Homo sapiens: one gene and its partner. The protein of the gene in region 2 purifies or fractionates together with the protein of the main gene of each other region. This does not show direct contact. Each region holds a gene or a part of one and is shown on either strand. Other genes may lie near its edges.

Region 1 (3,425 bases), about 56 Mb from region 2:
CCCAGCCCCCAACTCCGTCCAGGGAGACAGCAGAGCCTCCGAGCGGGCGCTTTGCTCAGCAGCACCCGTGTGGGGGCAGAGGCCACCCTGGGACGAGGCTGGGAGGGGACAGGAAACTTTTCTCCCCACGCGCCCCCTCACTCCATCTGCTCCTGCCGGGTGACTGATGGGTTCAGACAGAGCCCCCCGTGCGGATGCCTCGCTGGAAGAAGCTGCATGCGCTGCTGTCCCGTCTGCCCAGTCCTTCCCGGCCCTGGGGCTGCGGCCGCAGGGTCTGACCCCTGCCCCCGCCCAGTCACTCCGTCCTTCCTGGCTGCGTCCATTTGGCAGGGCCGGCTGCCCCTTACAAGCTTGTGAGTCACCCCACCACGGCCATCTCCAGGGGCCCCCACCCGTCCGCCTGCCCGGGATGCCTGGGCAGGGCCTACCCCTCAGACCTGCAACCTCCCCGCCCTTCCACAGGGCCCTGCGCGGGGCAACAGCAGGAGGAGGAGGCGTGATTACAAAACAAAACGCTTTTATTTGGTCCATTGGAGCCTGAGTCGGAAGCCACTGTGGAGAATCCTATGGTAAAGGAACGGGACTGACAATTGATAAAATAGTCTCTGTGTCACAAGAGCTGGCCGTATTTACAGGGTTAAAAATATTCACAGCTCAGAGTACAGGGAGGCCAAAGGGGAGTGGGAATGTTTCTCCAGGTGAAAAGGCCCCGGAAGCCCCTGCCGGGGTAGGAGGGGGAGTGGGGGCGAGGCCGGCCCGCTGCCGGGAGTGAGGGGCCAGGAGGGCACGCAGAAAGCTGGGCTCAGACGTCCACACACTCCTGGGCTTCTGTGGGGAGGTGGGAGCGGCTGAGCCCTGCCCGTGCCCACGATGTGCTGGGGTCCCTCTCTGGCAGGGCCGGGCCGAGGGACAGGGTTGGCTGAGGAGCCTGCTGGTCCCAGTGTGCCCGGCAGCAGTGAGCGGTGCTGAGAACTGGTGCCCACCCACAGCGGGCCTGGCGCCCGCCTGCACCCAGTCATGGCTTCGATCCTGGCGGGCACTCCAGGATTTGCATAGTGTCGCTGGGGGGCTGGCCAAGGGCCCCTTCTTCTGAGACAGGCACCGCCCCGGGACTCGCCGCTCCACACCAGGGCTCCAGGGACCCCGCCTGCCCTGTGGGGGACAGGGACCCGGGCTCTGGGGGAAAACTGACCTTATGCCCCGTGAGGGGTGGTCCCTGATCCCACCCCAGGGTCTTGGCCTCTGACACCCAGATTTGGTTTTGCGGACAGAGCTCCTGGCTGCCTAGCCCGCAGGAGACCCTGAGCCCACAGGGAGGGGCAGCCTGGCCTCGGCCCCCGTCGGGTGTTGGGGCTGGCAGGTGAGCGGGGCTGGTTCACAGCCCGCCTGGTTCGAGGTATTCTGCGTGGCGGCCAGGAGGCCTGGCCAGGCGGACTGTGGGGTTCAGGGAGGGGAAGGAGGGGGGCGGGGGGCCCATGGGAAGCTGAGCCCTGGGCTGGCAGCTCCCTGGGCGGGGTCCTGAGATTCTGGCTCAAGCGTCCTCTGTCGGGGTCTCCCTCATAAAGTGCGTGTGGGGGTGGGGGGTCCGTCTGTGCACAGCCCCTGCCCCAGGCATGGTGGTCACAGCGGTCGGGGCCCATGCAGACCGGCGACCTCTGGCGTGAGTGGGGGGCTGTGGGTCCCCTTGGAGGCTGTCCAGTCACTGAGGAAGGCCTGGGCTGCCTTGCGATGTGCCAGGCGGTGGGTGATAGAGAAGCCGGCGTTGCCCTCTAGCTGGGACAAGATCACCAGGACCTGCCTGGGGGAGGGGACCGGTGAGGACCTGTGGAGGGCAGGGTGGGGATGGGGGCAGGGCTGTGCCCACCTGTACAGGGGCAGGAGCAGGAGTGGGGTGACAAACACCCGTACAGGGGTGGGGGCAGGGGTATGAGCACACCTCTGCAGGGGTGGGGGGGGCATGGGTTGGGTGTGGGTGCAGCGGGGTAGGGGAGGGGGCACCTGTGCAGGGGTGGGGGGGCACGAGTTGGGTGTGGGTGCAGCGGGGTAGGGGAGGGGGCACCTGTGCAGGGGTGGGGGGGCAGGGGCGGGGGCGCACCTGTGCAGGGGTGGCACGCTATCCTGGGTACGCAGGCTGCCGCGTGTGGACACCACGTTGAAGCTGTCGGTGCAGTCACACTGCACGTGCAGGTAGGCCTTGGGGTGTCGGTTCTCCACCACCACGATGAGCCCCGCCCAACCGTGTGTCAGGTAGTAGCAGGTCATGCCCTCACGGCCCTGGGCACAGGAATGGCAGTTGTGGGGCAGGGGAGGTGCTGGGGCATACTCCCCCTGCCCCACGCCACCCTCCCCCGGGACCCCCACCCACCTCGTGCCGCTCTCCGCGGCTCTCGGTGAGCAGGATGATGGCGTCGGCCAGCGTGGTCGGCTGGGCTTCCACGGGCTCCACCATGACCAGCCTCGAGCTGTACACAGCCAGCACGTGGCCCGGCGGCTCTGGGGAGGCTCTCGGGACCCCTGCCGAGGGGCTGGAGGCTACAAGGACGGGCGTGTGAACCGCAGCCCTCCCCGTGGGCCTGGGGCATGAGCCTGGGGTAGGGGCCACGTACCCTGGGGGGCAGGGGTGCCCGGCAGGGGCGGCCCCCAGTGGTTGAAGGCGCAGCACACCACAGCGTACTCGCCAGGCTCCAGCATGACGTCGCAGCTGACGAACTTCTTGACCGCGCGCTTACTGTGGGCCAGGAGGCGGCCCAGGCTGAGGTGGCCGCCGCTGCCGAACGTGGCCCGGAACACCAGGATGCACAGGTCCAGCAGGTGGCTGTCCACGGCGTCCGAGCGCCTGCGCCAGACACCACGGGCCAGGGTCACGCGTGGTCACGGCCGCCAGCCTAGCCCAGCCCAGCCCGATGGGGCCCCGCAGCACCCACCTGCTGCCCTCCTGGAAGAGCGCGAACTCCAGCGAGGCCCGCTCCAGCACCGTGAGCGCTGTTACCCCCACGGGCGCGCTGGCCGAGCTGGGAAAGCAGCCCTGCACCCGCGCCTCCTGCCAGTCCGAGTGCACCTTACAGATGTCCACGGAGTCGAAGTACCTGCAGGTGGCGGGAGGACGGGGCCCTGAGCCTACCACGGCCCACACCTCCGTGGCTCAGCGCCTACCGCAACCACAGGCCGGTGACCCCAGCAGGTGCCAGCTGCTCCGTCACCGTCCTCTTGCAGCCCGGCCCCCGGGGGCCCATCCCTGAGGCCTATAATAGGAAGCCCTCCAGGGCCGGCTCTTCAGGGCGCTGGAATCTGCTGACCTGGGTGGACCTGAATTCTGAGGTTGGCACCTTGGAGCTGAAGCTCCAGGTCCCATTTGGGCCACGAACAAGCCGCCCCACCCCAGGTCAGCAGGAGGGACAGGCTTGTTCTCCAGAGAAGGACTCGGC
Region 2 (3,223 bases):
GAAAAGCAACAGGCTTTTCCACCCAAGACTTTGGGAATTCTTAATGTTTGTTTTCCTAAACCAGCAGGACCTCATTCCCAAGCATGTGCAGAATCCAGCTGTTTGGCAGGAAGAGCACGTCCTGTGGCTGAGCTTTTACTCCTGCTGCCACCCTTCTTACCTTGAGCTGGAGAGAAGGTGAGTCATTTCATACCTCATCATTTTTCCCCCATCATTTCATACCTACTCTAGTTACAAGTCATTTCTTCCTTGAAGCAAACTATCTCTTCACAATTTGTGAATATTCATTGCCTTCTGATAGTTCTGTTCTAGAGGCACACAGTTATTTGAAACTTTTTGCTATTTAACTCCTTACAAAAGGGTTTCAGTTGGCTTTGAAAGCATAACCACACATAAGACATCTTTGTACCTACCCAGCGTCTTGCTATGAGTTGTTTAGTGAATGTTTATCTTAGGTAAACAATGTTTCCGATGAGGATTAATTTAAATGACCACAATCATGATAGAAAAGGCTGATTTATTTTGCCAAATAGAACACCTACACATAACATTACTCACGTAAAAATATATAAAACTTTGCTTTAAAGATTAGTCCCTGGCTGGGTGCGGTGGCTCACATCTGTAATCCCAGCACTTTGGGAGGCCGAGGCGGGCAGATCACCTGAGGTCAGGGGTTTGAGACCAGCCTGGCCAACATGGGTGAAACCTCGTCTCTACTAAAAATACAAAAAATTAGCCAGACATTGTGGTGGGCACCTGTAATCCCAGCTATTCGGGAGGCTGAGGCAGGAGAATCGCTTGAACTCAGGAGGTAGAGGTTGCAGTGAGCCGAGATCGCGCCACGGCACTCCAGCCTGGGCAACAGAGTGAGACTCCATCTCAAAACAAAAACAAAAACACCACCAAAAAAAACAAAAAAATGATTAGTTACCACAGTAGTACTTAAAGGATTAAAATCACAAACATAAGCTCAGCTTACAAAAGCATGAAATTTGAGCTGGTGAAACTATTGCAGATTTGCCAAGGTGAAACCACTAAATTTACTAAATTTAAATTTGGGGAATTTAACTTTGATGGGTTCCTATATAAGCCAGTACTGTTTAAATCAGGAAATGGGGGGAAACACAGGTATATTCTTAGTAAATTAAAACTTTCAAGCTAAGTGTGATGGCGCATGCCTGTAGTCCCAGCTGCCAGGGTGGCTGAGGCAGGAGGTGGCTTAAGCCAGGAGTCTGGGGCTGTAGCCAGCTACCAGCCCACTTGTGAGTAGCCAATGTACTCTGGCCCAAGGAACAAAGCAAGACCCCATCTCAAAAACAAAAACGCCAACAAAAACTTTCATGGCCTTACCTGATCATTCTTACCGGCACAAACAGTCCTCTTCTGAAAAACAAGCATTCAGGTTAAACACCGACAACTCAGTTGTTGACTGTCTAGATACAACAAACGCAGAGTAAACTGCTAGGATGACAGGAGTCTCTGCCAGGGTCATTCATAGTAAAACTTTATTGAACAGAAAACCCAGCAAAGGTTTTCACCTCCGCAAAGTTCCCCTTAGTTTAAAGTAAAGCACTGCATTTTAAAAAGCAATTATACATAAGTCTTTCCTAGAAAAGTCCTGCTAAAACATGTCTAGCAATTTCATTGATTATATAAAGTAGTACACTTAGTGTAATTTAAACATTCCAACAGGAATCAAATCGTACCAGCAGAACCACTTCTGCATCTATGACTTCTATGTACAAACACACATGCAGACACACACATTTGGAAAAGTTCCTCAAGCATAGACATGCAACACCTAAGGCCTTCTACGTACAGTGCTTATTAAACTACATAGAGTATATATTAAAGCTCTTCAGAATAAAGACATGAGAAGCCTTGGGCATTTTTTGTTCACCAATTTGTATCACGGCTTCACGTTTCTGCTTTTGCTTGCTCACAAAAGCATATCATCATCCACACTGTTTTTTAAAAACTCATCATTGCCATGTCCAGGAGAGGCAATCTAGCTGGAGTCAGGTGATCCAGTCCATTCCTGTCAAAGCCTCCAACAGCTACAGCACAAACACCATCAGTTTGCGATGGCTGGGGGGCCTTCTGGAAGAAGAGAGGCAAAGAAAGTCTTGAAGACAAGCCATGCTGTGCTCATAAAGGAGGGGCTGGTCTGCTCGCCATCTAGTACATCCCTGTCTGGAGGGAGGTGGTTGGGGTCTTCAGTTTCAGGATCAGTGCCTTCCTACAGGTAATGAAACAATGAGGTAATGAAACAATGAGAAAACAATTAGGGCTATGATGAACACCAAATAATGTTAGGAAAGGGCAGGGTAAATCCCTGCCCCCTGCCCCATAGGCACAGCAGCAGGCAGCCAGGACCCCAGGGAATGATGCCCTAGGCTGGATAGGGCTGTTTCTCAGGCTTCCACAGCACAACTGTGTTGATGTTGTCATAGTTTTGACTGCTCCTGGCAGCAAATATCAAATGAAACAACTAGATCTGCAACTATTATTATTATTTTTGAGACAGAGTCTCGCTCTGTCACCCAGGCTGGAGTGCAGTGGTGTGATCTTGGCTTACTGCAACCTCCACCTCCCAAGGTCAAGCCATCCTTCCGCCTCAGCCTCCCTAGCAGCTGAGAATACAGGCACGCCCAACTAATTTTTGTAATTTTAGTAGAGACGGGGTGTCACCATGTTGGCCAGGCTGGTCTTAAACTCCTGACCTCAGGTGATCTACCTGCCTCAGCCTCCCAAAGCGCTGGGATTACAGGCGTGAGCCACCACGCCCAGGCTTCAACTATTATTAAACTAGTAGTTAACCACTTCATACCAGTTCTTATGGTATAACACACTGTTACAGACCACTGAACGCTCAAAATAGTGGGTTTAAAAAAATGTTATTTACTTAAGCCAAAATGCAAATTGCCACGTCAAAAATATGTGATAGAATGTGATGGCACATTCGACGTTTTAAAAATAGCTGCTGCTCTAAGAAGAAATGTGAACAAATCATGAAATATTTAGCCCAATAAAATGGTAAACCGCAAGCTGGCAATCTAAAGGTTGAGGATTGGAGAGCCTGGCATATCACGTCAAGCTCGCCTGGGCTTCGTGGGAGGCTCCATACCTGTAAGTTATTGTTGGGGTCCTGATTTACAACGTCAGGAGGAGGACCATCATTTGGGAAGTTCTGAACCGGCCTCGGTCTAAATGGAAACCACCC

Evidence for each region. Proteins that work in one complex are often made in the same cells at the same time.
Region 1: the proteins of HERPUD1 (region 2) and CAPN15 purify together in Homo sapiens (affinity purification with mass spectrometry; 3 studies listed by BioGRID and IntAct, with this or other methods). This does not show direct contact.

The regions. Positions count from the first base shown.
Region 1 is NC_000016.10:551,712-555,136, reverse strand, and holds the end of CAPN15 (calpain-15), read right to left. Parts: intron 3,087-3,425; coding exon 2,925-3,086; intron 2,837-2,924; coding exon 2,607-2,836; intron 2,533-2,606; coding exon 2,366-2,532; intron 2,275-2,365; coding exon 2,096-2,274; intron 1,823-2,095; coding exon of another isoform or gene 1,799-1,822; coding exon 1,621-1,798; 3' UTR 501-1,620; downstream 1-500.
Region 2 is NC_000016.10:56,942,142-56,945,364, reverse strand, and holds the end of HERPUD1 (homocysteine-responsive endoplasmic reticulum-resident ubiquitin-like domain member 1 protein), read right to left. Parts: coding exon 3,128-3,223; intron 2,240-3,127; coding exon 2,075-2,239; coding exon of another isoform or gene 1,972-2,074; 3' UTR 501-1,971; downstream 1-500. UniProt on the Homo sapiens protein: Component of the endoplasmic reticulum quality control (ERQC) system also called ER-associated degradation (ERAD) involved in ubiquitin-dependent degradation of misfolded endoplasmic reticulum proteins.